Homo sapiens: one gene and its partners. The protein of the gene in region 3 interacts with the protein of the main gene of each other region in a pairwise test. Each region holds a gene or a part of one and is shown on either strand. Other genes may lie near its edges. The genes, in order: GRAP2, AVPI1, PRKAA2 and ZNF212.

Evidence for each region.
Region 1: the proteins of PRKAA2 (region 3) and GRAP2 interact in binary tests that used the Homo sapiens proteins (3 or more experiments, as listed by UniProt).
Region 2: the proteins of PRKAA2 (region 3) and AVPI1 interact in binary tests that used the Homo sapiens proteins (3 or more experiments, as listed by UniProt).
Region 4: the proteins of PRKAA2 (region 3) and ZNF212 interact in binary tests that used the Homo sapiens proteins (3 or more experiments, as listed by UniProt).

Annotation. Positions count from the first base shown.
Region 1 is NC_000022.11:39,904,065-39,911,088, reverse strand, and holds part of GRAP2 (GRB2-related adapter protein 2), read right to left. Parts: intron 1-7,024. UniProt on the Homo sapiens protein: Interacts with SLP-76 to regulate NF-AT activation. Binds to tyrosine-phosphorylated shc.
Region 2 is NC_000010.11:97,684,221-97,691,666, forward strand, and holds the start of AVPI1 (arginine vasopressin-induced protein 1), read right to left. Parts: upstream 3,022-7,446; 5' UTR 2,546-3,021; intron 1-2,545. UniProt on the Homo sapiens protein: May be involved in MAP kinase activation, epithelial sodium channel (ENaC) down-regulation and cell cycling.
Region 3 is NC_000001.11:56,704,302-56,711,325, forward strand, and holds part of PRKAA2 (5'-AMP-activated protein kinase catalytic subunit alpha-2), read left to right. Parts: coding exon 1-174; intron 175-1,790; coding exon 1,791-1,917; intron 1,918-3,173; coding exon 3,174-3,412; 3' UTR 3,413-7,024. UniProt on the Homo sapiens protein: Catalytic subunit of AMP-activated protein kinase (AMPK), an energy sensor protein kinase that plays a key role in regulating cellular energy metabolism.
Region 4 is NC_000007.14:149,234,835-149,242,673, reverse strand, and holds the start of ZNF212 (zinc finger protein 212), read right to left. Parts: upstream 3,024-7,839; 5' UTR 2,896-3,023; coding exon 2,872-2,895; intron 1-2,871.

The DNA of each region.
Region 1 (7,024 bases), on a different chromosome or scaffold from region 3:
CGAACTCATTGTCGCATATCCTCACCGCAAGGAGGAAATGGCCATTCACACTTATTCCTATCTTACTTAGGAAGATTGAGGCCCACTAGTTTGTCTAAGGATGCAGATTCATCCACGGTTGCAGAGAATTTATGGATAGGAAAGAGACAATGAAGTTCTGGCCCTTTAGAGGCCAGAGATCCATCATGAGATTAGCTGCACCAGCAGGTAAGTACTCACCTGCAGGGAGGGGAAGCTAATACCCTAGCTCTGAAAGATTTGGACAAGTTGTTATCAAAATGATCGAGTGAAATAGAAATAAATGTCTTTACATTTAAACCTCTGTCCTAGGGTTTTTTTTTTTTTTTAAATCAACAGTGTAAGTACAGAATAAGAAAGATCTGGCTGGGCATGGTGGCTCATGCCTGTAATCCCAGCACTTTGCGAGGCCGAGGCAGGCGGATCACAATGTCAGGAGTTCAAGACCAGCCTGACCAACATGGTGAAACCCCGTCTCTACTAAAAATACAAAAATTAGCCGGGCGTGGTGGCGGGCGCCTGTAATCCCAGCTACTCGGGAGGCTGAGGCAGGAGAATCACTTGAACTCACGAGGCAGAGGTTGCAGTGAGCCGAGATTGCGCCACTGCACTCCAGCCTGGGCGACAGAGCGAGACTTGGTCTCAAAAAAAAAGAAAAAAAGAAAAGAAAAAGAAAGAAAGATCTGGCTTAGTAGTAGTGCATGGGAACTCATGGGTTTTAGTTGACCACAATTTCGATATGAGTCAGCAGTGTGACATGGGTGCCAAAAGGGCTCATGCAATCATGGGCCATATTAATAGAAGTATAGGCTACAGATCAAGGGAGGCAACTACCCCATGGTGTTCTGCATCCTCAGATCACTCCTGGAGAGCGTTGCTCCGTTCTGAGTCCCGTGACTTAGGGGAGGCCCTAAGCTAGAGTCCAATCAGAGGCGGGTGCTTAAAATAATGGCAGCACGCAAAACTGCCTCATAGGAGGAGTGGTTACAAGAACTAAGGATATTTATGCTTGAAAAAGAAGACTTTGAGGGACATGATTGGAAGCAGGGGAAGAGCAGGCTATCTGGGAAAAGATCTTGAGGTAATTTCCAGTGGCAGAAGTTTAGTTTCTGGATTCCCCATGGAAACTTCACATGGCTCTTCTGACTCTTTGTTGTTTGCAAAATAAACAGATCTTCAGCAAAGAAGACCCTGTTTCTCCTATGATTTCCTTGAAGTGTAAAGCTTTGTGGATGCATTGATGCCTGCTTGCTAAACCATCTCTCTCAGCCTACAGATGCACCTCCTTCAAGAAGTTCTTTCTAAAAATCTCCATCTTGAGCTGTTTTTTAATCTCCTCATCAGTTTTGCATTGTGGTACCATTTTTTTGTTTGTTTGTTTTTCCTAGTTTCCCAAATACACTGTTCATTCCTTAGGGGAAAGGACCCAATGTTTTTTTTGCTTTTATTTCCCAAAGTGTTCTCAGTACGTCTGCATACCTGTGAGCTAGGGACTGAGTGAATTTCTGCAGACAGTAGCCAAAAGATGAATTAAAGTAATCAGACAGGTAATTTTTACAGCATCTACAAGACGAAGCATTACAGCATGCTTTCTTGATAATAATAACACCTAATTGACCCTTCACTTTATGAAATAATATGATCTGACAAAGTAGGCTGTATCATAAATCTCCCTTACGTCTTACATTTAAAAATGGAAGTTGTGGATCTTTGCTGGAGAAAAAGTCTGCTCTCTAAAAGCTCCATCTTTTTTGTTCCAGGTATTGGGAATTTCTTTTCAGCTAGGGGATTCCTTGACTTCACACTTTCTCCTTCTTTGATTATTTGGATACTTACAGGGTACCAAGTGTCAACTCATAAAATCTTATAGTACCCGGTTTATAAAATGAATTAGTAGTCTATTTAAAAATATTGATCTAGAAAATAAAAATTCCACAAAATGAGTTTGTTTACACAAGAAAGCACCATGTTCTGCATTGTACAAATGAGATATTGTTGGGGGTAGCCACACATGAATCTTCAAAAGTCTCTTGTATAGTGGGTTAAAGAATGGCATAATTTCACTCGAGGACAGAGGAGTCGATGAGGCACAGTGAGTCATCTGTGAGGCTGAGCACAGAACACAGGATACGGGAGCCAAGCTCATGCTCTGTCACTCTCATCACTGGTCAGTATAACCTCCCACAGTCCAGTGACCTGACACGGTACCGAGCAGATGATACTGTCTGCAACAAGTTGATCTAACTCCACTTGCCAGCCTGAAGTTCACTTAGAAAATTTGAAGCACAAAAAGACTGAGACACAGGGGCCCAATTTCCTATCAACACCTGTTAATCACAAATATTAGCACTTAGCTTGGATGACTCCAAAGGCCAAGGGAGAGTGGTGATGTCCTCCCCTAGTCTCAGGACTTCTGCATTCACAGCTGCAGGCCCTCTTGTGAGTCTCCAACTTCCAAGAACAATTCTGGGACATTAAAGGATATAACTGTTCGTAATAAAAAATCAAGGAGAAGGTTTTGTACCCTTTGAAAGGCATAACCTCTTTAGAAGGATAAGGATCTATCAGCCCAAAATAAGCCCATCAGCATTATTTACTTCCATATGACTCCCTGAACTACCCAAGAGGGGTAATAAAATCTCATGGGATGTCTGCCCATTGCAGAGCACAGGGTTGGAGTATAATTGATGTGGACAGTCAGCCCTGCAGCAAGTGAGGCAGCCAGCGGCATGACACCCAAGCAGCCCACAAAGGCACTATTGAGATGTTTGTAGTTTCTAATGGGATTTGGACATTGCAAGGGAATCCGTTAAGAATTGGATGCCAGCTCTTATGCCCTACAGGGAAGGGTGAAGGGTCTTGCCATCTATGGCAGAAAAGGTCATTTCCCTCTGTTCCCAGACCCAGTGGGATTAGGTGGTTTTCTGCAGAAAATCAAAGGGCTTCAGAGAACACACAGTCTAACCTCTCACTTGACTAAGGAAGAAACTGAAGCTCAGGGAAGTTAGGTGACTTGTTTAAGATCACGTGGGTAGCTCTGGTAGAGCCAGAATTCAGCTTTCCAGAAGCCCATCGAGGGCTCCTGCATCTCCAGAATCCTGTGTTTGGACCAGTGTTGTGGAAGGGGCCCAGCCTACAGCGTGACAGGCTTGGTGCTACGTCCCGGCAGACATTAGCAAATTACCTTGAGCAAGTCCCGGAAACTCTCCAAGCCTTGCTTTTCCCACTCTGCAGAATGAGAGGTAAAATCTGTGGTCTGTCTACCTCAAAGATCATAGCCAGATCAAACAAGATAATGGCAACTCTTTTTATTTACTTATTTATTTTTTGAGACAGGATCTCACTCTGTTGCCCAGGCTGGAGTGTAGCGGTGTGAACACGGCTTACTGCAGCCTTGATCTCTTGGGCTCAAGGGATCCTCCTGCCTCAGCCTCTGGAGTAACTTGGACTACAGGTGCGGGCCACTGGGCCTGGCTAATTTTTTAAAAGAATATCTTGTAGAGATGGGGCCTCACCATGTTGCCCAGGCTGGTCTCAATCTCCTGCGCTCAAGCAATCCTCCCACCTTGTCCTCCCAAAGTCAATGAGCCTGTACGACAACTCTTTTTAAAGCTCCATCAGGATCAGTGTACAATAACTCTAGAGAAAGACAATTTTTCCTATTCAGGATATATGGGTGGACACCAGGTGATTTATGATGGATGGACACCAGAATTTCCCACGGAAATTCTGTACAAAGTTGCGTAGGATAAGTGCTAGGCATCGTTGGTTTTTTTTCCCCATTGGGGAGAGTTTTCATAGTTTTCGTTGACATCTTGAATGTGTCTGTGACACTCCCCTTCCCCCACCCACCCCACCACTGCCAGTAAGAACCTATGTGCTATGGATATCAGCGTATTTATGGTCAACTTAAAGTACTGATATAAGGTATTAGATTTAGACAATTTTCTTAGTTGTCTCAATGTTTGGTTGAGATTCTCCTGTTATTCTTACCGATTTAATGATCTATATTTTCAAACAAATCTATTTAGCGGAGGAGAGCCTTTTCAGCTATCAGACTTTACATTTTGTTTTATAAAGGGTTAAACTGTGTGACCTATAAAATGATGAAGAGAAATTTCAAATTACAAGTCAGCCAGGCTTTCCACCCCACTTTGTACTTCCCTTGTAATATTTCCTAGTTATTTAGAAAGAGTTTCTTTAAAATCATATTTAACAAGAGAACTATCTACTTATTATTTACTGAGTTCCTACTGAGTTCTCAGCAGTTTGTTTCTAATATTTTCCCATAAAGCACTAGACAAAAAACACAAATCATGAACCATTTGTAGGCCGACACATTAAGCCCGTGGTTCTAGAAGGCTGGGGGGTGTGGAGAAAAACAAACGAAGAAGTATTATTCATGACCAATTGATCAATTAGGCTGCTTTTCATTAAAAAACATAAAAAGGCAGAACCAATTTGGCAATGACTGTGTTGGAAATGCAAAAAGAACCATTATTAATGCTGGATTTTTTTTTTCTTATTTATTTTTAGTTCTCTTTAGAAAATTACACTTGAGAGCTTTCTGTAATGGCCACTGAAGGAGTGGATAAGATTCAACTCAGCAGTCGAACCCTTTTGTAATGCTAATGAAGGAGCATGGACCAACACCTAGTTTATACAGCTTTTTCTCAATACAGTTTCAGAAGCCACAGGCTGACTTATGGAATATCTGAGTGTATGAGATAACCAACCAGGGAATTTACCTACTAACAACAGTCATCCATCGTCTCTTAAGGAAATCCACCATGGCCTTTTATAAATCTGACAATGGCTTATACTCTTGCGTTTTATGGTAAAATCTTATATAGTACAGAAATGTGAAAAATGAGAGGAAATTTCTCCCTCCTGATTATATCAAAATATCATCTTCCACCCCGAGGCTCTGAGGTCCCAGGTCTCATAACTCCCCGCTTGTATTGTTCCTTTCAGGGATTTTTTCCCCCCATTACTTCATAGTTCTCCTACTCTTTTCTGTTCCAAGTATTTTATGTTCAAGGTTTCTTGTACAGAGCCTTAAGCTATGTAAATGTAATAAGAGTACTTATCTGGGCTTAGTGGAATGCTGTTCTTATTCAGATGAATTAAACCTTAAATGTGTTTGGGTGGCAACCTCCCGGATTTTCAATAACTTCAAGTCTGAGTGTGTGTGAGGGCTACTTCCACTCAGCTCCACTTGTATCACTCCTCACTGCATGTGCCCATCATCAGAGAGAGTGCTCAGGAACCAGACAGCCTGGGTTCAAATCCTGGCTCCACCAGGTACTAGTTAAGTGACCTTGTGCAACGTACTAGACCTCTCCGTACCTCAGTTTCCTCATTGTGAAAAAAGGGTATTATTAGCACTTTCTTCATTGCACCATTAGAAGAAGTAGACGAGTTAGTACCTACAAAGTATTAGAACAATGCTTGGCAAATAACAATAATAACAGGCACTGTTTTAGGAACCTTAAATGTATAAATCGTTTACTCTTCAGAACAATCCCACGAGATAGGCACCATTAGTAATCCCATTTTATAGCTTAAGAAACTGAAGCACAAAAAGAATAACTCGTCCCAGTTCATTCGCTTAGTAAGTGAAAGACTGGGCTCACACCGAGGCTGTCTTGGCTCCACAGCAAGCACTCAATAAACATTACCTACTATTATTATTATTACCTGAACTTATGCACTCAATAAATATTTCCAGCCACTATTGCTGCTGATAATGATGAATTTGCATGTCGAGTCCATCTTCAAAGCGTATTAAAAATATATATGAACTCCAATGAAATAATCAATTTAGGCAAAGATTATTACCTAAAGTCACCGGGTGAGAGTTTGTTGGGAAATAGGATATTGCCACCATGCCAAAGTGTTTATGAGATACACTTTGAGATACCCCCTGAGAGTACTCGCTAATTGCAAAGGGTGAAAAAGTGCCTGTACAACAAGAGATCCTCTGAGCAAGATCACTACCTCAAGCCCTGATCAAACTTGGCATCATGCACAGTGGAACAACCTGGCATTCTGTACCTCCTGATAAGATGCAATATGGAGCACCCAGTGGCACCTTGCAAAAAACGTTCAATCAAAATCAAATCATGCTTTTAGTCCTAACTTGGAGCTTATGAGAAATAAAGTGGGTAGAGGAACAAATTAACCATGAGGCAACAACGAATTCAGAAAGTGGGACCTGGTACAAGAGAACTGGCGTAATCTTTAAAAACATCCAATGTTGAAGAAAGAAGCATGAGACCCAACTGCAAAATATGTTCTTATTTTTAAAAATTAGATTCTTTTTTTAAAAAATGGTATAGAAGACATTTGGGGGACAAATGGGGAAGGTTAAATCTGCACTAGCTATCAGATGATATTAAGGACTTACTGTTTATCCTCTTAGGCCTAATGATGGAATTGTGGTTAGATAGAGGAATGCCTTTATTCTTAGATGAGTACTGAATTATTTAGGAGTGAAGTATTATTTTATCTGCAACTTACAAGTAATTCAGAAAGAAATAGGTATAGATGGAGCAAATACGGCAAAGAGTTAGCAATTGTTGAACCTAGGTAGTGAGTACTAATATTTCAACTTTTCTTTATGTTTTATGTTCAGTTATTTTCTCACTATCTTTTCTTTTCTTTTCTTTTTTCCTCTTTTTGAGACAGGATCTTGCTCTGTCGACCAGGCTGGAGTGCAGTGGCACGATCTCAGCTCGCTGAAACATCTGCCTCCCGGGTTCAAGCAATTCTCGTGCCTCAGTCTCCCAAGTAGCTGGGATTACAGGCGCCTGCCATCATGCCCGGCTAATTTTTGTATTTTGGTAGAGACAGGGTTTCAACATGTTGGCCAGGCTTGTCTCCAACTCCTGACCTCAGATGATCTGCCTGCTTTGGCCGCCCAAGTGCTGGGATTACAGGTGTGAGCCACTGTGCCCGGCTGTTCTTCACTATCTCCTTAAGGTATGTCTTAACATTTTCTTTG
Region 2 (7,446 bases), on a different chromosome or scaffold from region 3:
GAGAAAGGGTGATATCTGGCCTCACCTCCCCAGGAAAAGAAGGGCAATAAGGATCATGTAGCAGCAGCTGCCTCGGGGAGGAAATGGCTTGGAGCCTGACTTCCCAACAACCTCTCCCAGGATGGCAAGGCTTTGACTCCACAGCTTCAGCGAGCTGCGAGTCACAAACATACCAAGAAACCCTCAGGGAGAGTCTGAGCCTCCAGCCTCAACCCTCCTTGAACCTTAGGGAGGGCCTAGCACCTCCAGATTTTGAGGCCCCTCACTCTTTTTACTCTTTTTTTTTTTTTTTTTTGAGGCGGAGTCTCACTCTGTCACCCACGCTGGAGTGCAGTGGCGCAATCTCAGCTCACTGCAACCTCTGCCTCCAAGGTTCAAGCAATTTTCTTGCCTCAACAACCTCCCAAGTAGCTGGGATTACAGGTGCCCACCACACGCCCGACTAATTTTTGTATTTTTAGTAGAGACAAGGTTTCACCATGTTGGCCAGGCTGGTCTTGAACTCCCGACCTCAAGTGATCCACCCACCTCATCCTCCCAGAGTGTTGGGATTATAGGCGTGAGCCACCATGACCGGCCAAGCCCCTCACTCTTGGCTCTGTCTCTTATTCTGGGATTCAGACAGCAGAGTGAGGCTGGGAATAAAACTAGGCTGATTCCAGGTAGGATTAGATGGTTAAGTTTTGGGAAAACCGATGAAATGTCGAATCAGAACACTTTTATTATCAAAGGAAACTTTTCCTGTCTCATTCCATGTGTTCAATAGTTATTTTCCCTCCAATTTCCTGGAGAAGACCTTAGTCCAGGAAAAGTCAGTGTATACTTGCACAATAGTACTTTTGAAAACTAGAAAATGAAACCATGGGGCTATTAAAAGATTACAAATGGACCTTTCATTTCAGAACTGACATAAAAGAAGGTAAGTATGGGTCTGTGTACAAACGAGTAAAGACCAATTGCAAAATACTTCAATTTGACACAAACTAGGTTGAAAGTGAACCCCAAAGGAAATACCAAACATTGAAAATGACAAAGTTCAACTTGTTTTGAAACAGGCAATAAGTGAAGAACTGTGGAACCCTAACAAAGAAATATATTTAAAAAGTGACTCACCATGCAATGAATTTGCAATATATAAATATGGCGCGCAATTGAGCACTCTTTGCAATATATGAAGTTCAGTTCAGACAGCTATTCTAGGAGAGTATCTCACTGCAGTCCCAGGGAGGCACAGGTAACCACCAGAGGCAGAACACATTTGGGTGAGCTGGCAACTCCTAGGTCCTCATGCAGGAGGAGGCCCCCTTCCAATAACCCAGGTGATAGCAATAATCTCTGTAATCAGGGGCCTAGGGGCTCTTAGAAAAATTACTGGAGGCTCTGGCCCAAGGCCTGAATCAACACTTGGGACCCTGGCCTGCTATCCTATACAGACATGCCACTGGACAGCAGCCAAAATCTGTGGCTCCTCAAATGGGAAGCCCAGTTCAAATCGCTGTGTGGGCTTCCCCACCAGCAGGGCCTAGCCTCAGGGAGGTATGCCGAGACAACTGGATATACATTGGCCTCCAAATCCATGCCCCTGGAGGTGGAGAAAGGAACTGGGCCCTTTCCCCAGACCAGTTCTCATATATGACCTGGAAATAAACTGCTACTAGATCTAGGGATAACCCTTTCAAGATTTCTAGAACCCTGAATTCTGGCTGTGCTGCTAACTGGGTGACCTTGGATAAGTCTCAGTTTCCCCTGCCACAAGTTGCTCGTCATCAAAATAGTATAAGGCCAGGCCTGGTGGCTCACGCCTGTAATCCCAGCACTTTGGGAGGCTGAGGTGGGAGGATTGCTTGAGCCCAGGAGTTCCAGACCAGCCTGGTCAACATAGCAAGACTGCCTCTATAAAATTTTAAATAAGCTTTTTAAAATAAATGGTGAGTATAAATAACTCTTAACAGGAAAAGGGAGATTAAGTTTGTGACGGCATTCCTTCTAGTACCTGGTATACCACAGACATTCTATGCATGCTGGTTGAATGAATAAATGATGAAGGGAAAGGCTGTTTGACTACCAGGGGCTATAGAATCATTGTCATTTTCATCATCACAGCCATCAACAAATCTGTGTACTTTTAAATCATAGCTTTATGATTAAAATCATAGAGGCAGCTTGTTCAGTGTCAAGCGCAGAACAGAGCACGTTCAGATGGGTGCTTTCTTTCCTCCTCACTTAAGGTGGCACTATTGTTATACCCATTTTACAGATGAGAAAGCTACACCCAAAGTCACACAGCTGGCAGGTGATGGAAGCTGGGACATGAACCCAGGCAGTCTGACCCCAGCACCCGGGCTCTCAAGCCACTGTTATTTTTGTTCCTGCCAGATGGCTGAGGAGGTCTTCTGGGGAAGGTCGGTCCCAGAAGCCTTTCGGAGGCTATCTGCTTCTGTAGATTGTGGAAGGAGCAGGGAGGGATCCAAAGTCAGGACTCCCAAGCTAGCCTCTGTACCCTCTGCACTCCACTGCCCGGTGGAGAATTGGAGCAGGTACTCACCACACTGAAGGGCAGCTCCGACAGACCTCAAATGGGGATGGGGCAAGCTAAGATGCGCCCACTCCAACCTCTTCCACAGCCTTCAGAAAGGGCAGGCGCAGCTCTGCGAAGGTGCTTACAAGGGCCAGTCGGTGATCACGGGCAGCACAAGAGCATGGCAGAGGGTATCCTGGCCGAGGTCCTAAGGCGACATCTGCAGCACGAGGAGGCCCCGGGACTCAGACGTGGCCGCTTCGCAGAACGACGGGGTCCTAAGTGGATCTGGCGGTCGCGTCCCGCTGGCACCCCGGCTCTGACTGTCGCCCTCCGGCTCCCACCGCAGCGCCGAGCTGGGCCGCCGACCTACGTACCTGGTTGCTTGAGGCAGGCCGCACGCAGCCCCAAACTGGTCCGGGCCACTTGGGTCACAGCCGCGGTTCCCGGGAGAAAGCGCTCCCTAGCCCCGGAACAGCCAATCCTCGGCCCTAGCCAGGTATGAGCTCCCAGGCGAGCCTTCCAAACCCAAGGCGGAGTTCCGTGCGCCAATCATCGGTGGGAGACAGGGAGGGGGCGTGTCCATCCCCGCCCCCCGCCTCCGCTGGCCTCGAAAGCGGAGTGCGAAGCTTCCTCAAACCTAATCGGCGGCGGAGCGGCGGTGAGGGGGCGTGTCTGCCCGGGCCCTGCCCACCGCCCTCTCCGCCCCCGCGCGGCGCCCGAGGCGCCCCCTTCATTGACGTCAGTCCCCAGGGCCAGCGCGGTTTTGCTGGCGCGGGAGCTGGGCGGGGCTGCATTCCTGCCCCAGGGTGCGGCGAAAGCTGGCCCTGCCGGGTACACGTGACGGATGCCCCTTCTCCTGGGCCCGAGGCCAGCGCGCGCGGCACTGACTGCCTTGCAGCGCGTGGCCCTCTGCAGATCCTCAGACTCTGCCGCTCAAGTCCCCTCCCAGCCCACCGTTTGGCTCCGGCTTTGAGGGAGAGGAGGGGGCAGTCTGCTGGAGTCAGACCTTGGGCTTCAAAGCCAGAATGTCGTGGGTTCAAATATTGGGTCATTTGTGCGACTTTGGGCCGGTTACCTAAACAAGACCGTATTTTAAAGTTTGTATGCATTCGGAAATGTTCATTAGTGACCTATGCTGTCCGAGTTCCTTGATAGGCCGTAAACAAGAGAGACGGAAAGACCTATAGCCCTTGTCCTGGGGAGTCTACAGCCTAGTAAGGGAGGCAGGCATTAAACAACCTAAAACATGGAGTATGTGATTACAGTTGTGATCAATGTTATGGCTATAAGAGGATAAATATGGAGGAACCTAAGCTTCCTCTGGGAGGTTCAGGAGGGCTGAAGAAGCAGCATTTAAGCTGAGATATAAAGAAGGAGTTGAAACTGGTCAAATGAAGAGGAGTGGATCTGGGGAGACTGCTTTAAGGAAAGAGGGAAAGGCATTTGGTTGGGCCAGGAGGTAGCTTGGCTCCGGAGGAATTAAATGCGACCCGGAGTAAGGCTAGCAAGAGAGAGCACGGTGGGAAGTAGAAGGCAGAGGCAGGCAGAGAAGGTTGCATGTGATCCTTGGAGGGGTTTAAACAAGGAATGGCATTATATGTACTGTGTTTATGTAACGGGCATTTTATAGTACTTACCACGTACCAGTAGTGTCAGTCAGCACTTTGCAAATTTCATCATCATGACAAGTTTGTGTTTTTAGAAGGTCACTCTGGCTGCAGTTTGGAACTTGGATTGGAGGGGGCAGGAGTGGAGGCAGGGTGTCCAGTAGGCCTCTGATAAATGCTTGTTTTGTCCTTGGAAGATGAAGTGTTTGTGCACTTGTTCAGCAATGCTCAGGAAAGGCTCCTGGGTCTCCCTGACTTCCTTTTTACTTCATAGCTGACCTCTTATCCATTTAAGCTTGATTTTTCTTCTGTAAAAGTTGTGGGTGGGAAGGGGAAGAGCCAGCACATGGGGCTTTGTGAATTCCTTGTTGCAGCGTGAAGGGGATGCTTGGGAGCTATTTGTCCTCACCCCATGATCTCCAGTTCCTCTCTCTGTCCTTCTGCACAAAAACAGCGTAAGTGTTGTTGTGCTGTGGCTAAAAGGGTTTTTTGTTTTGTATTTTTGAGACAGAGTCTCACTCTGTTGCCCAAGCTGGTGTGCAGTGGCACCATCTCAGTTCACTGCATCTTCTGCCCCCTGGGTTCAAGCGATTCTCCTGCCTTAGCCTCCCGAGTAGCTGAGACTACAGGCACGTACCACCACACCTGGCTAATTTTTGTATTTTTTAGTAGAGATGCAGTTTCACCATGTTGGCCAGACCGGTCTTGAACTCCTGACCTCAGGTAATCCACCTGCCTCGGCCTCCCAAAGTGCTGGGATTACAGGCGTAAGCCACCATGCCCGGCCGCTAAAAGGTTTTTTTGTTTGTTTGTTTGCTTTTTTTGAGACGGAGGCGCACTCTGTCGTCAGGCTGGAATGCAGTGGCACGATCTCGGCTCACCGCAACCTCTGCCTCCCGGGTTCAAGCGATTCTCCTGCCTCAGCCTCCCGAGTAGCTGGGATTATACGTGCAGGCCACCATGCCCGGCTAATTTTTGTATTTTTAGTAGAGATGGGGTTTCACCATGTTGGCCAGGATGGTCTCGATCAATTGACCTCGTGATCCTCCGGCCTCAGCCTCCCAAAGTGCTGGGATTACAGGCGTGAGCCACAGCGCCCGGCCCGTTAAAAAGGTTTTTACAGTGGCTTCTCTTCACTTTTCCTCAAGCCCTGGGGAACTGTTGAAAAGAACAAAGAAATCAGCGATGTTCGTCTCCAGTGGAAAGTATTGGTGCAGAGACTTTCAGCCAACTACTTTGCTAAGGAGGGGACTGTGCAGGCTCCTAAACCAAAGGCTGAGCTTCTGAGCCAGTGACTCCCACTGGCCCATTCTAACCAATGGGGAAGCCAGACTCTTGGCATATCAGTGCTGGGTGAACCTAGGAACTCTGATGCCATGAGCTTAGATGAGCATCCCGAGGTAGGAATTGGGAACTTGTGGTTTCTGGCTCAGATGTGACTAAGGCTGGGTGGAGCGTATCTGGTATCTCCAAACATTTTTGCAGGCATGTGACCATGTGCTTACCACACAATGGAACCATTTCTGTTGTTACAGCTTTGTGATTCAATACTTCTGGCGAGAAGGTGGGGCACTCCACAGTTGTGTGGGCCATGTAAGCCTCACCAGAAGTGGAGTAACATCTGAGACCCACAGAATGGTGCTGGAGACAGTAATCACCCCGGACGGGGCCCTGTTTAGAGAAAGTCAACTCTGGGGAATGGAAACCTCATGAAATTCAGGCCCAAACTTGAGTTTACCCAGGGGCCTAGATTAAAGTGAGTTTAGTGAGGAACTCCCTTCAGGCATAAAATTTAAGAGGGCACCAAAAAATTCAGGAAACCCAAGATAAATAATATCTTAACACAATATTTTTAAAAATCGAAATTAATGCAAAAAATCCATGATGAACAGAATATCAACATTTAAAATATAGGCAGACTATTGTTTATGACCTTGCATTATTTTGCAATGGGAACAGTCATTACCAATCAGCCCATGGTTCCCAGGCAGACTGCCACTGCGTGTCCTGACAAGTGGCTTTATGAGAGTTGACAATAACATGTGAACAGATTGAATAACATGGAACTTTATATGTAGTCTTTTTTTTATTGGAATGCTTTTATCCACTTGTTCTATTTGGTTCAAAATATGGAAGGTAAGTGCATATAGGACATATATTTTTTCTTTTGTCTTGGGCTCGAATATGGTTCAACTCAGTACTGGTTTTTACCCTCAAAGGAAGTAAAGTCTAGGAAGGGGGTTCTAGCTGTTTTACCTTAAGCAAATGACTTAATTCCTCTGCCTATTTTCTTGTCTTTTTTTTTCTTTTTTTTGAGACAGAGTCTTGCTCTGTCACCAGGCTGGAGTATAGTGGCCCAATCTCAGCTCACTTCAACCTCTGCCTCCCGGATTCAAGTGATTCTCCTGCCTCAGCCTCCTGAGTAGCTGGGACTACAGGCGTGTGCCACCACGCCCAGCTAATTTTTGTATTTTTAGTACAGACAGGGTTTCACCATGTTGGCCAGGATGGTCTCTATCTCTTGACCTCGTGATCTCTCTGCCTCGGCCTCCCAAAGTGCTGGGATTACAGACGTGAGCCACCCAACCTGGCCTCTTTTTCTTGTCTTTAAAATGAGAATAATCACACCACTTTTCAGTGTTGCTGTGAAGATGAATTGAGGTACTGTAGGCTGAGTTCTTAATATACACCTTGCTATAGACACTAAACCAGCATTGGACTCCTTCCCTCTTTCTATCCTGCAGGAATGGTTCAAGCAGCTGGACAGTTATGGTTCCCTAATGGGGCTGACACTTATTCCCATGGGTTTCTTATTGCTATTTGTCCTGTTCTGGGCAAAGCAGAGAGAACTTTTACACTCAACTGACATGCAACAGTGCAACTTTTGAATTAACTCTGATTTTCTTGATAAATAATCATGGGCATTCTAAACTTTTTAAGAAAGCCCCTTCTGCTTATGACATTACACAAGGCAGCTAGACTATAGCCCTCTTCTATCAAGTGACAATCTGGACAGGCGAAAAATAGCAAAGTCCTTATAGAAAAATGGTACAAGCTGGGCGCCGTGGCTCACGCCTGTAATCCCAGCACTTTGGGAGGCTGAGGCGGGTAGATCACAAGGTCAGCAGTTCGAGAACAGCCTGACCAACATGGTGAAATGCCATCTCTACTAAAAATACAAAAAAATTAGCTGGGCGTGGTGATGGGCGCCTGTAGTCCCAGCTACTTGGGAGACTGAGGCAGGAGAATCGCTTGAAACTGGAAGGTGGAGGTTGTAGTGAGCCGAGATTGTGCCACTGCACTCTAGCCTGGGCAACG
Region 3 (7,024 bases):
ATAGCAGACAGCCCCAAAGCAAGATGTCCATTGGATGCACTGAATACGACTAAGCCCAAATCTTTAGCTGTGAAAAAAGCCAAGTGGCATCTTGGAATCCGAAGTCAGAGCAAACCGTATGACATTATGGCTGAAGTTTACCGAGCTATGAAGCAGCTGGATTTTGAATGGAAGGTAGGAAATTATAATGTAATAAGATCATTTGTAGAAGCCATTTTTCTATATTATAAGCTGCTCTGAGCTCCTGAGTTGAGTATTAAGCCCAACTTTTTCTAGTAATATGCTATGCACATTAAAAACAAAACAAATAACCTCTATAAGGATGAAAAGTGGTTGATACTGGGAACCAACATATTTTGAATTATAGAAGTGTTCTTGGTCAAGAAAAAAGTAATCAACTAGAAATCATCTGAGAAAATAGCTTACCAGTTTCAGCATGCATCATAGCAATGAAAAATCATGAGTGTCTTCAAAGATAGTATGTTTTTACTTTCTCTTTTTTTTTTTAGGGAGGTTATTTTTCTTTTCTCTTTTTTTTAGGTGACAGAGGCAGGTGGCTGTAATAGCTAGTGGTTGATACAAATTATATCATCAGGACATATTTATTCAGTCAATAAACACTTTTCTCCAAGTTGTGATATTCTCTTTTATTTGGCTAGTGCTTTTAATACTTAGAGTACATTTTCCTTACTCTCAGCCCACAGTTTGCTTTTCTTAAAAATTAGTGCTCAATTTCATTTGAGTTCTATTTGAATATATGTGTGGGGAGGGGCATTTTTTCTTTTCAGATATGCCTTTCACTCTTGTTCTTTTCTTGAGGATTGTGAACTTTTAAAGGAAGAAGAAAAATGTGCAAACTTACCACATAAATATGCATTTGACGTGTTCAAATAAATCAGTCATTTTCATTTTATTATTTGTACATGAAATGAATATTTTCTTAAAATCATTTAAAAAACAGATCTCTCTGTTTTGGAGCAGTCTTATTTAGTTAAAAAAGAGACGTTAACATTTTTAAAATTCTGTACTGAAACATTTTGAAATTAGTACCACAGATGTTTTGAAAACCCAAAGCAGTGTTGTTTTTTTGTTTATTTTTTGTTGTTGTTGTTTGTTTTTTTGAGACAGGGTCTCACTCTGTTGCCCAGGCTGGAGTGCAGTGGCGCGATCTTGGCTCACTGCAACCCAGGGTCAGGCTATCCTCTCACCTCAGCCTCCCTAGTAGCTGGGACTACAGGCGCCTGCCACCACACTCGGCTGATTTTTTTTGTATGTTTTTGTAGAGATGGGGTTTCACCATGTTGCCCAGGCTGGTCTCAAGCTCCAGGGCTCAGGCGGTCCACCCACCTTGGCCTCCCAAAGTGTTGGAATTACAGGCGTGAGCCACTGTGCCTGGTCCTCTTTGTTCCTTCTACTCCATAATCATCCATGAACATGTTCAGGCAGAGACTGGACAACCAAATTAGAATTGATGTTTTAGAGTTGATGCTTATCTAGAGTGAAAGCTGGACCCTATGTAATCTCTGGGTTCTCTTTAAGTTTTTCCTTTATCTTTCACTTTTTTCTTCAGTACCCCAAATTTATTCAAGTAGCTTTTCCTTTAAATCTTAATTGCCATACAGTACTGCTTAGTGGGGATTAAATAAATACTAAAGTGAACTACCAGTAATATAAAAAAATTATTCGTATTCCTTTCCTACCTCACCCCTATTAATTATTTGTTTTGACTTTTTTTGCATAAAAAGGTAGATATTTTGTAGTTTATTATTTTTATTGATTTTTCACTTTAGGTAGTGAATGCATACCATCTTCGTGTAAGAAGAAAAAATCCAGTGACTGGCAATTACGTGAAAATGAGCTTACAACTTTACCTGGTTGATAACAGGAGCTATCTTTTGGACTTTAAAAGCATTGATGGTAAGGAAGCTATGCATGCATGAGCTCTGAGAAGATAAAACTTGGCACTAGTTGACCAGATGTTAAAATCATCTCGAAGACATCCGGTGGGTAGGTCCTGCACTGGTTTTTAAGCAATCTAGACTTAACCAAAATGTAAGTGAAGTGAAAAGGATGAAAGACATGTTGAATACCTCTTACCTGGCATCTTTCCACAAGAAGTATCTCCGTGGCGTAAAAGAATCATTTGAAGTGTTGGCCGTGGAGCACAAGTAAGGAACAACAGGGAAGCAGGTTTTACTTTTCAAAATTAACTGACTTGTCAGATTCTTTGTCATATTTCTCCATTCATATTTTATTAGTTAGTATTATAGTGTCTAAACTTTCTCCTTCATCACCTTTCCTCATCCTGGGTGGCCAGGGCGACCAAATAGGTCTCCATTGGGATTTGGGTTGGATTTAGGTACCCATGGCAATCAAGGAGCCAAAGGCGTCAGGGAAAATTGTCATGTCCAAGAACTTAGTGTGTGCCAAGAATTAAACTTGGGTAAACCAAATCTGATTATTCATTTCAGAGGCCCAAGTGGGATAAAACCAGAATAAACTAAGGGTCAGGTGCTGGATGGAACAAGAATGGAACGGAGTTTAGAGTTAGGGAAGTTGTTTTAAACGAAGCATTTAAATTTTACTCTTGAACTACCATCAACTATGTATGGTAGTGTTTATATGGATCCCAGACCTGTTTCATCGAAATTACATGTTGTTGTTATTAAAACGCAGATCCCTGGGAACCACTCCAGACCTATTAAATCAGAATTTCTGGAGATTGGTCCTGGGAATCGTAGAAAATGCAGTTTTAACAAGATTTCTCTCACTTTGCCCTCCACCTCCCCAAGGCAATATATGATGGTGACTTTTGTTTTTACCTTAGTGATTTTTTTTGTTGATATGCTAGAAGAAAATAAGTTGTCAAGGATATGCTTTCTTCACATGCAGAGATATCAGTTTGATTCCAATATCAATGCCGATTACTCCAATTTGAGCAGGACTTAGGGGCCACATTTTGACTGTGTGCAAGTCTTGTGATTGGTAGCGATGTTTGTTATGATTGTTGGAAGGAAGAAGACTGTGTTTCTACAACACAGAAACATGACATTCATTATTAAGTTGCCCTTGCTCAGATGTGTTTACTTAATATTCTGAATATCATAAATTCATAGGAAGGGCTTGGGCATATATACTTTCCATATAAATTGCTCTTCTTTGGTCCATTTCAGATGAAGTAGTGGAGCAGAGATCTGGTTCCTCAACACCTCAGCGTTCCTGTTCTGCTGCTGGCTTACACAGACCAAGATCAAGTTTTGATTCCACAACTGCAGAGAGCCATTCACTTTCTGGCTCTCTCACTGGCTCTTTGACCGGAAGCACATTGTCTTCAGTTTCACCTCGCCTGGGCAGTCACACCATGGATTTTTTTGAAATGTGTGCCAGTCTGATTACTACTTTAGCCCGTTGATCTGTCTCTAGTTTCTTTCTGTTATTGCACTATGAAAATCAGTTATATTCTTTAAATTTTTATCTTACTTTTGGATAATATCCACTGCAATACTAATTGAGAAACATGAATTATTTCCAGGGGCACACAATGCTATTGAAATTACTGAAAACAAAATATCTGACATCTTATTTACTTGTAGAAATCTGTAATTCTATTGTGCCTATGATAAATTCACATAGGCAATATCTTTAATAGGTTAATATCAATGAAGATTTTTAATTACAATAATGAGTTCACTACAGACGATTAACACACCACACTGGCGAACCATCTCAATGTAAGGGTGGTTTGGCAACACCTCCTTGCTTTGCTGTTTGGTGTAGGTAAATCTAGTTTACTTCCTAAATTTCAGTAGGCTTTATGCTGTGTTTATGCCCCCAATTTATTTTAACAAAAGAAGATTAAAAAGTAAAAGAACCACGAGTAAGATATTATTTAAATGTTGAAATCTTAAAAACCTGCCTCCAAGATTTCAGAAGCCAAGTTTTTCTAACAGTATTTGTACAAATACTGCCTAGTGTATTCAACAGAAGGACTGTGGTCATGTAACAGGTAACCACAATTTTCAGGTTTCTTAAAAACAGCTGTAACTAACTCAGGATTTTTATCTTGAGATTTCCCTGAATAATATATTTATCTTAAGAGCCTTCAAGTTTCAAATTAATATTGGAACATCTGGAATTGCAACAACTTTTGTCTTTTACATAAACTTACGTCATTTAAAAAATGTCTTCAAAATCTACCTTTCTCAAATTCTTTTTGCCTCTATTTATTTTTGCATTTCACCAACAGTGATAAAATAGTTAAATGAAACAAAGCAAAGTATCAACAGTCCCTTAAATGAGAATCCTTATCTTTGATCTTTATTTTCTGTGTTAGGTGTTAGGGTCCTGGTGCAGCTCATAATGCTAATTCTTCATTGGAAGCCACTCCCTTCACCTCACCTCACCTAGTCACTATTGTCTTTGTTCATTGTTTGATCCTGAGTGGTTGATTGATATAGCTTTGAATCTTTTCTAGTCCAAGTTTGAAAACACTGTTCTGGCCCTAAGGGCTGGCTATGACCTTTACTGTTGAACCTGATAGGGCAGGGAAGCTTTGAACATCAAGAAAAAATTTTTATCTTAAATAAATAAATATATATATTCACACACCAGTGCTTTTAAGCAAAAACCAGTTTTTTTGTTTGTTTGTTTTGCTTTGTGCAGGTTTTCTTTAAGATTAAAAAAACACAAACTATAGCAGGGTAGATAATAGTTTATTGATTATATTTTGTTTTAGTAAAAGTATTTAATTTTAAATTCTGTGTAATTTATCTAATTTGTATTTATTCATTTGTTATTTTTATGTTGTAATTAACACTTATTTACCTGGATTACCCTAAAAAAATTAAGCTCTTGAAAACAAAAAAATGACATTACCTTGACAGGCTTCTCTTTGCCAAAAGTAATGTATGTTCTGCCAAGAAGCAAATGAGAATGTTAGACTAAGTTTCTCCTGTGTTAGTGGAAAACAAGTGTGTCTATCTTTAAATATTCTTTGAATCAGGAGTTTGCGTTGTGTCACATCATATGGCTTTGCAGATCTTTTAAAAACTGATGTTAAATAACTTATAAGTCCAACTTCTTAATATCAAGATAAATGAATAGTTCACCAATTTGGGAAGGAGGGCGGGTTGCAATTTGAGATAGTTTAAGGTTTAATTATTGAAAGACTGCCATCTTGTGGCACCAAAAGGTAATTTTTACATGATTATTTGTATAGTGATAAGCAGTCCTGCTGTGTTAGCCTGGTCCATTATAGATATGGCATAGTTTTGGGTTCTCTAAATGGGTCCATACCTCTTTTGGGAAAAAACAGGGCCACCTCATAATATTTGCCTGATTATGAATGGAATTACCTTAGAAATAAGGAACTAATCAGATTACTTAACCCCAATGACAAAATCCACAAAAATTTTGAAGGCAGAGAAACAGAAGGAATCCAGTGATGTTTTAGCTCCATTAGTCTAATAGGTCAGATATTAAAAAATTGTTCATATCAAAATTACCTTATATGGATTATTGCCATGTTTTTTGAGAGTTAATTATTTACTGTTTTCTAATTCTTGCCAGTATTTATGAACAGCTGTAGCTTGATATTTACCTACTGAATTTTAGGAGAACTAATGGTCACAGTTTGGGTTCTTTTATGTGTATGTTTTTAAAACAGCTATTTTGTGAATCTAGGTGGTTGGTTTTTAGAAGATTTCAGGAGATGCAGTCCAGCACAATTAGAGCTGGAACATTGTTACAGCAGGCTTTTTGTTGCTCATGGGCAGATAGAGGGAAAGAATCAGTTGTTAGCCCCAAATTTCCACATTTCAGTGTTGTAAACTCTGAATGTGATAGGTAGATGTGGGCTAAGAATAATTTCCTCCAGTGAAGACACGGGAGAAGAGCTTCTATTATGAGGTTATAGATAAGGCCTTAGTTATATCATGGAAATGGACTCCATGTAGTTCTAGAACTGCATTTCCCAAAGTATATCCTGTGAGATGCTCCACAGAAAAAATGATTGCATGGACTAAGTTTGAAAAATGTTGCATGCTACTCTTCCCCTCGAAGATGACAGTGGATGTCAGCATTAAAGACTTTGACAGGTCTTTCTGTGAAAAAAAGAAAGCCACATAACTTTGTTGAACTTTGCCCAAATTAATTTTTCATTTTAAAAAACTTAATAGCCCATGAAAAGCAAATTTGGGAAATACATTTTTTAGGAAAATACTGTCCCAGAATGCCATAATTAGGGTAGTTAATAATTAACACTTCCATTTCTCTTACTGGTTGTTGGGAGAATCTGATTGAAAATTAGAATTACTTTGTTTTAACTTGCAGACATGTTCATCGTGAGTGAATGCTGGATTAAATAGAATTTTCTGTGTCTGCAACTTGTTTCATGACACCTTGGTTTTCTTAATCATCTTGTATTATTATTTGAGTGCAACATTATTCTTATGCATGGGTGACTGAAAAACCTGAAACAAGATTACTTGTTAAAAAAAAGTCTAAGAGACTAATGACTCATGCTTATGGCTCAGTGGGTAATGAATCAGTGTCACTGATTCTTACTTTTAAAATGTGTAGTCAGTGAACATTTTCTAAATACTTTTCTTTGGGATACCATATGAAGATCTAATTCCTTATGTTTCAGTGTAGGAACAGCTACCTTCTCAAATAGAATATGCAGGGAGGGAAGTAGGCAAACCATTTACAAGTTGGGTTTTTGTTTTGATTAACCTGTTAAGAGACACTTTTGTAATCTCTAGTGTTTACATTCCTTTATACTAGCTATCTATAAAGAGAATCCAGAAGGCTAAATTAATCAGAAATAATTATATTTCTATGTCAGGGTATTGGCTATATGTAGCATGAACAATTCTCCATTTTCTGCAAATGGGTTTTTCAGGACAGTTTTATAATTCTGAGTTTGCTTTTTCTTATTCCCTAGACAGTTTGTACTCAGGGAATACAAATTGATTTTTACTGTTAAATGAGACATAGTTTAGAAAAAATCATAAGCAACTATTGT
Region 4 (7,839 bases), on a different chromosome or scaffold from region 3:
ATGCATCATCACATCTTCTCATATTTTCAGACTTTCTATTTGGGAAAATTTTCATTTTACCTGAGGTATATCTTTTAGAATTTCCTTTTCTAAGAGTGTATTGGTAGCAAACTGTCATTTTTAATTTGTCTAAAAATGTCTTCTTTACATCTTTGTTTCTGAAACATTTTTGCTGCATATAAAACTATGGGACCACAGTTACTTTCTTTCAGCCTATTGACAATATCATTCTACTTTTGCCTAGCTTCCATGGTTGCTGTTGAGAAGCTGGCCCCCATTCATTTTGCTGTACTTCATTTCAAGGTAGTCTTTTTTTTTTTTGGTTGCTTTTAAGAATTCCCTCTGCCTTAGGCCGGGTGCGGTGGCTCATGCAGTGGTAATCCCAGCACTTTGGGAGGCCGAGGCAGGTGGATCACCTGAGGTCAGGAGTTCAGAGACCAGCCCAGCCAACACGGTGAAACCCCATCTCTACTAAAAATACAAAATTAGCCAGGCATGGTGACGCATGCCTGTAATCCCAGCTACTCCGGAGGCTGAGGCAGGAGAATCGCTTAGAACCTGGGAGGCAGAGGTTTCAGGCAGCCAAGATTGCTCCACTGCACTCCAGCCAGAGCAAGAGAGCGAGACTCTCTCAAAAAAAAAAAAAAAAAAAGAAAAGAAAAGAAAAAGAAGAAAAGAAAGAAAAGAAACGAAACTATGGCCAGGCACGGTGGCTCACGCCTGTAATCTCAGTGCCAAGGTTTAACAACTTACTTTGCAATCATCTGAAGGTCAGACCTTACTTTCAGTTCACCCTTACACAGAATGTTACCCTTTGAACTCTCTGCTTCATGGGATTGGGTTAGGGAGCTTCTTAGACTTTCCATCTTAGGCTCTGAGATGTGTGTTCCATTTTGCAGGTCCCTTGAATCATAAACACCAAAGATGAATGTTTGGCCAATGCCCTCAAAGTTGGCTTCAGAACTCTATCACTTTCGAGTTTCCTCTTTCGCTTAAGTTTTGGGGCTCCAAGTATTCTTTACTAAAATACATTTCAAATGCATTTATGTGCAGGGTTTTCCAGCATTTTCAGTTGTTTCATCAGGGCACCTACTTGAGCTTACTGTTAAATGACAGACACCTGAAATGTCTGAGAAGAGAAACAGGCTCAAGAACAATTTGAATAAGTTCTACAACGACAGATTCATGTTATTTAAGGCATAGTTTGGGATTGTGGTGGACTTTTTTTTTTTTTTTTTTTTTGAGACAGAGTCTTGCTCTGTCACCCAGGCTGGAGTGCAATAGCACGATCTCAGCTCACTGCAACCTCCACCTCCCAGGTTCAAGCGATTATTCTGCCTCAGCCTCCCGAGTAGCTGGGTCTACAGGCACCCGCCACCACGCCCGGCTAATTTTTGTATTTTTAGTAGAGACCGGGTTTCACCACATTGGCCAGACTAGTCTTGAACTCCTGACCTCGTGATCCGCCCTCCTCGGCCTCCTAAAGTGCTGGGATTACAGGCATGAGCCACTGCGCCTGGCCTGTGGTGGACCTTTAAGGCTTCTTCCTAACAAGGTCTACTGACGACATGTAGGTAATTGTGGAGTGACCTGGCAGGAAGAACTGTGGCAGAATCCTCTCGCCGGACTCTAACACTAACTAGATCTTGTGGAAAAGCCAAGTCTTTGACTGGCTCAGCCTAGCTTATAGGAGTCAGATGAGGTTAATATTGTAAACATTTGTGTCTTGTCTTCCCAATTCAACTGTTAACTTCCTTGAAAGCAAATACTGTGTTCTCTAAGTCTCCCAATCTCTCCGTTCTTAGTTCTTAACGCACTTTCTACAAGAATCAAATATAGCGCACCCTGCTCATGGTCAAATTTTCCCCACAGAATTTCCTTAGCCCTCCATTCTCACAAAGATCTAACATGATTCTCGAAGTGTTTCTAGACCAAGGAACACTTCATTAAAAGTCAATTCAATTCCAGCTGCCCCTTCCGTTGCAAACCCTCTGGTGTTGTTAAATTAACCACTACTTTGAAACAGTATGGGAACAGTATGAGAATGTCGGAGCTGGAAGGAAACTTAAAGCCTTGGAGATCATCTAGCAACTACTCCAACACTCTCGATTTACAGTTAAGAAAACGAAAGAGACCCAGAGAAGCGAACACAGTTGCCTAAAATCACCCAAATGGACAGCTGAAAGCTTCGTGACTCCACAAATAGGATTTTCCTCACACCAAACTCCGTATCTTGACATTCCCAGAATGGGGATGGTCGGTGGGCTGGGAGGGGGGTGTTGGGGGGGGGGTGAAGGAGAGAGTTTGGGCAGCTCTACAAACAAAATGCAGCAACTGCACTGTAGATAACATCCGTCCCCAAGGAGAAGCAGCCCAGGCTGACTTCAACCTGTGGCTGCAACCCCCAGACAGAAATCTGCAGCACTGGAAAAACCGACAACACATCGGACCGAAGAGGAGGTGGTCGCAGAGAGGCAAGTCCTGGGGTCTCCCGGGCAGCGGGAGAGCTCACTCGTAGCGACGGAGACCGTTTCCAATCTGGAAACACTCCAACCTGGGAACGGGCTCTTTTGGCACGAAAGAGAAAATGTGTGGGCAGGGTCACAAATCCACCAACCTAAAGCAAGCGTCAGAGAAGTTTCTGGGCAAGGGCGCACGGCGCCGAGGCTCCGACCCCGCTGCAGAAGGAAGCGGAGGGAAAAAAGGGCAGAGCACTGGGGTCGCGAAGAGGAGGGTCCGCGTTCACCCGCGCCAACGGCAGCCCCGGGAAACCAAGACCCCGGCGGCGTCCAAACCGCGAAGCCCCGCCCCCGGCAGGGGACTCCGCCATCCCCAACGCGCCCTCGAGCCAGCGCGCCGGTGCCTCTTTACCCGAGCAGGCGCCGACTCCGCCATGGCTCCAGTCGCCCCTCAACACCCAGACCCCGCCTCGGAGCCCCCGTGCTGCGTTCCTGTCCGCTCGGCGCCCCAGAGCCTGTTGGAAGCCGCCGCCGCCGCCGCCGTGTTGATGCCAGGTGCATTCTGGGAGCAGCGACCTCCCCGGCACAAGACCGGCTCCAGCCGCTCTTCCTCACTGTGCAGGCTTCCCATTGTGCCCCCGTGCGGCGGGAGGGAGAACGCTGCTTGGCACTCCCGGCCAGAGTGCGGGCACCAGGAGGGCTCAGTCACTCAAAAGTCAAGACCAGGTTCCGCGTTTCAGGCAAAGCCACGGGATCCTGCTGTCTTCCGTATGCCCAGCACTCTGCTAAATGCTTTGAGGGATTCAAAAATGTGTACAACTCAGACTTTTTGCTGAGGAAAGAACATGTAATGTTGTTGGGGAAAAGAAATATGGTTCCAAAAGGCAAGTGATTTTATTCCAAAAGTTCACCTGTTATTTGGCTTTTTAGAAACTGGGAACAGTTTCCATATCAACAGTGTGGAGCGTGGGGTCAGGCCCAGGCCAGCCCTCTGTAGCCTGTTAATTATGGTAATCATGTGCCTTGGAAAGTCCAAGACAACCCTGATTTCAAATATTTCCAGTCCTCATGCTACATGTAAGACGATGTGTCTGGAATTTTTGTTGGAAAGCACGGCCACATGACCATTTAATCGCCATGTACTTAATCCCCAATACCAGCAACACTACGGCAACCATAGCTGCCTAATTTATACCATTGTCTCTCTGGAGACAAGCAATGAACTTCCACTTCACAGGATAGGCGTGAAGTGTTTCCTCTGAGAACGAAACTTTTTTTTTTTGAGATGGAGTTTCGCTCTTGTTGCCCAGGCTGGAGTGCAATGGCGCAATCTCGGCTCACTGCAACCTCCACCTCCCGGGCTCAAGCGATTCTTCTGCCTCAGCCTCCCTAGTAGCTGGGATTACAGGCATGTGCCACCACGCCTGGCTAATTTTGTATTTTTAGTAGAGACGGGGTTTCCCCATGTTGGTCAGGCTGGTCTCAAACTCCCGACCTCAGGTGATCCGCCCACCTCAGCCTCCCAAAGCGCCGGGATTACAGGTGTGAGCCACCCCACCCGGCGGAGAACGAAACTTTTAAGATCATGACTGGCTCCTTCCTCACATGCAGGGCTCAGTTCAGATTCTACATCCTCAGAGAGATATCCCCAGTCCCCCCTTTCTACAGCCCCACACCATCCTCCATCTCAATACTCAATCTCGTTACCCTGCTGGAAATTTTTCATACCATTTATCACCATCTGAAGTAATCTCTCTTTTTCACTCATTTACATATTAATTATCTGTATCTCTTCCACTGAAATGTCTGTCTACTGTATCCTCCATTTGTTGTACACAGAAGTGTTCATATTTGTAAATGATTGAATGGTGAATCAGAGTGTAAGGATATGAAATGTCATCTCAAACAGAGGCATTATTTCCAGGGCAACTAGATCAACGGGCACGTCACTGAATCATTAATAAATCTAGAGAAAGAATGGGCCAGGCTGAAGAAACCGGTCAGTCAGGGAGATCCTGTCCAGAGGGTCTGACCTAATCTCTCAGACCAACAAACTCTTGGTGTCAGATACAGAAAAAAAAAAAAATGTGTCATGGGTGAGGTGGCTCATGCCTGTAATCCTAGCACTTTGGGAGGGCAAGGCAGGAGGATCACTGGAGTTTGAGACCAACCTGAGCAAATAGGCAGACCCTGTCTCTACAAAATTAAAATTAAAATTAAAATGAGCCAGGAGTAGTGGTGCACACCTGTAGTCTCAGCTACTCAAGAGGTTGAGGTGGAAGAATCATTTGAACCCAGTAGTTCAAGGCTGCAGTGAATCACGATCGCACCACTGCACTCCAGCGTAGGCAACAGACCAAGATCTTGTCTTTAAAAATAAAATAAAAATGTTATCCTCCACAGGCACAATATCAGGACATAGGATGCTGAGGTCATTAAACAGTTCGGTCGTAGAACTCATTCCCTCTATTCTATTTCTATACTCACAAGGCAACCTTCTGACGTTGCATGTTGCCAGGTAGCTTCTGGGAGGCAACATGCAGGTGAAGCTGATGCACATGTATACCTCAGTCTCTTGAAAATGAGCATGTTTCAGCATCCCAGACTCTGAGCCTGGAAGTCTGGAAAAAGGTTCAGATCAAATTTCCAGCCTGCAAAGGAGGCAGCACCAGGCACCAGGGTTGCAATCACGTGGGCTGGTGGAGATGGTGTGGCGCCTGCAGTCCCCCGGGCTGATGAAGACAGTGTGGCACAGTGATTTGCTAAGTGGGGCTGGGGAGTGAGACCGTCTGGGTCCCTAGCCCAGCACTGCCAGTATATTAGGTTTCTCTAGACAGACTAATAGGATATATATATAATGTTATATAAAGGGGAGTTTATTAAGTATTAACTCACATGCTCACAAGGCTCCACAATAGGCTATCTGGAAGCTGAGGAGCAAGGAGAGCCAGTCTGCGTCCCAAAACTGAAGAACCTAGAGTCTGATGTTCGTTGATGTTCGAGGGTGGGAAGGGTCCAGCATGGGAGAAAGAAGTAGGCTGGGAGGCTAGGCCAGTCTAGTCTTTTCACATTTTTCTGCCTACTTTATATTCTAGCTGTGCTGGCAGCTGATTAGATTGTGCCCACCAGATTGAGGGTGGGTCTGCCTTTCCCAGCCTACTGACTCAAATGTTAATCTCCTTTGGCAACACCCTCACAGACACACCCAGGATCAATACTTTACATCCTTCAATGCGATCAAGTTGATTCAGTATTCACCATCACAGCCACTTACTAGATGTGAAACTTGGTCAGGTCTTTAACTTCTTAGTACTTGTTTCCTCATGATTATTGGTGAATAGATAACAGTACTTAGCTCATAGAGTTGTGTGAATTAAATGAGTGAATTCAAGTCAAGTGCTTAGAACAGTACCTGGCACAGAGGAAGAGCTCAAGAAGTACTCATGATCATTATTGTTGTTTAGTCCCAGATCCTTCATTTACTAAGTGCTGTGGCTCATGCTCACTCTGCCCTAGTGTCCTTGTCTTCCACTGAGAATGTGAACACCTCATCCTAAGGTTGCTGATGGAACTAAAAGAAAGAATTTATGTAAAGTGCTTATGTAGCCAAGTGCCCGGCATACAGCAAGCACTTGATAACAGGCAATTTCTTCTCTCTGCTTTACTTTTGCAAGGTCCAAGCCTTGTATTGCAATGAGTTCAGCAGGATAAATGTGGCTTTGTTGTGTCTCTTAGAAACTACCCATTTGTTTTTTCCAACTGACATTCAAATCTTGACATATGCTGTTTTAAAAAACGTTGTTGGCCGGGTGTGGTGGCTTACGCCTGTAATCCCAGCACTTTGGGAGGCCAAGGCAGGCGGATCACAAGGTCAGGAGATCGAGACCATCCTGGCTAACATGGTGAAACCCTGTCTCCACTAAAAATACAAAAAATTAGCCAGGTGTGGTGGCGGGCGCCTGTAGTCCCAGCTACTCCAGAGGCTGAGGCAGGAGAATGGTGTGAACCTGGGAGGCAGAGCTTGCAGTGAGCGAGATTGCACCACTGCACTCCAGCCTAAGCCACAGAGCGAGACTCCATCTCAAAAAAAATTGTTGTTGTTTTTTGTTTTTTGTTTTGAGACAGAATCTCGCTCTCTTGCCGAGGCTGGAGTGCAGTGGAGAAATCTTGGCTCACTGCAACCTCCGCCTCCCAGGTCCAAGCGATTCTCCTGCCTCAGCCTCCCAAGTAGCCGGCATTACAGGTGTGTGCCACCACGCCAAGCTAACTTTTGTATTTTTAGTAGAGAGGGGGTTTCATCATGTTGGCCAGGCTGGTCTCGAACTCCTGACCTCAAGTGATCCACCCGCCTCGGCCTCCCAAAGTGCTGGGATTACAGGTATGAGCCACTGCGCCCAGTCCGTTTTAAAAAACTTTTTTTTTCCTCTTTTTTTTTGAGACAGAGTCTCTCTCTGTCACCCAGGCTGGAGTGCAGTGTCGTGATCTCCGCTCACTGCAAGCTCCACCTCCCAGGTTCACGCCATTCTCCTGCCTCAGCCTTTTGAGTAACTGGGACTACAGGCACCCGCCACCACGCCCAGCTAATTTTTTTTTTTTTTTTTTTTTTTTGTATTTTTAGTAGAGACAGGGTTTCACTGTGTTAGCCAGGATGGTCTCAATTTCCTGACTTCGTGATCCGCCCGCCTCAGCTTCCCAAAGTGCTGGGATTACAGGCATGAGCCACCACACCCGGCTTAAAAAACTTTTAAATGAAGTTCACAGTTATTCCCATTAGTAGCATTGGTATTCCAAGAATCAAGAAAATAGACATTTAGTACTTGTAGCCTGGCATCTCTACATTTGTAGAATATGAATGCAACATGCAGAGCTGAAAATGACCTTAGACATCATCTCACCCCAGACCCTCATTTTTAGTGAAAGAAAAAAGTATTCTTTGAACAAACAAATAATATACATTGTTAAAATAATGTTTTAATAATATTTATCTTGGCCAGGTGCAGTGGCTCATGCCTGTAATCCCAGCACTTTGGAAGGCTGAGGTGGGAGGATTGCTTGAAGCCAGGAGTTGGAGACCAGCCTGGGCAACATAATGGGACTCCATCTCTACAAAAAAAAAAAAAAAAATAGCTAGGCATGGTGGCACACGCCTGCAGTCCCAGCTACTCGGGAGGCTGAGGTAGGAGGATCACTTGAGCCCAGGAGGTCGAGGTTGCAGTGAGCTGTGATCACGTCACTGCATTCCAGCCTGAGTGACAGAATAAAGCCCTGTTTCACACACACAAAAATTATCTTATCCTTTAAATTTGTATCATGTGTATGATTTATAGCATACATATTAGCCTATATAAGTACATATATGTATGCCTGTTTTTTTCTCAAA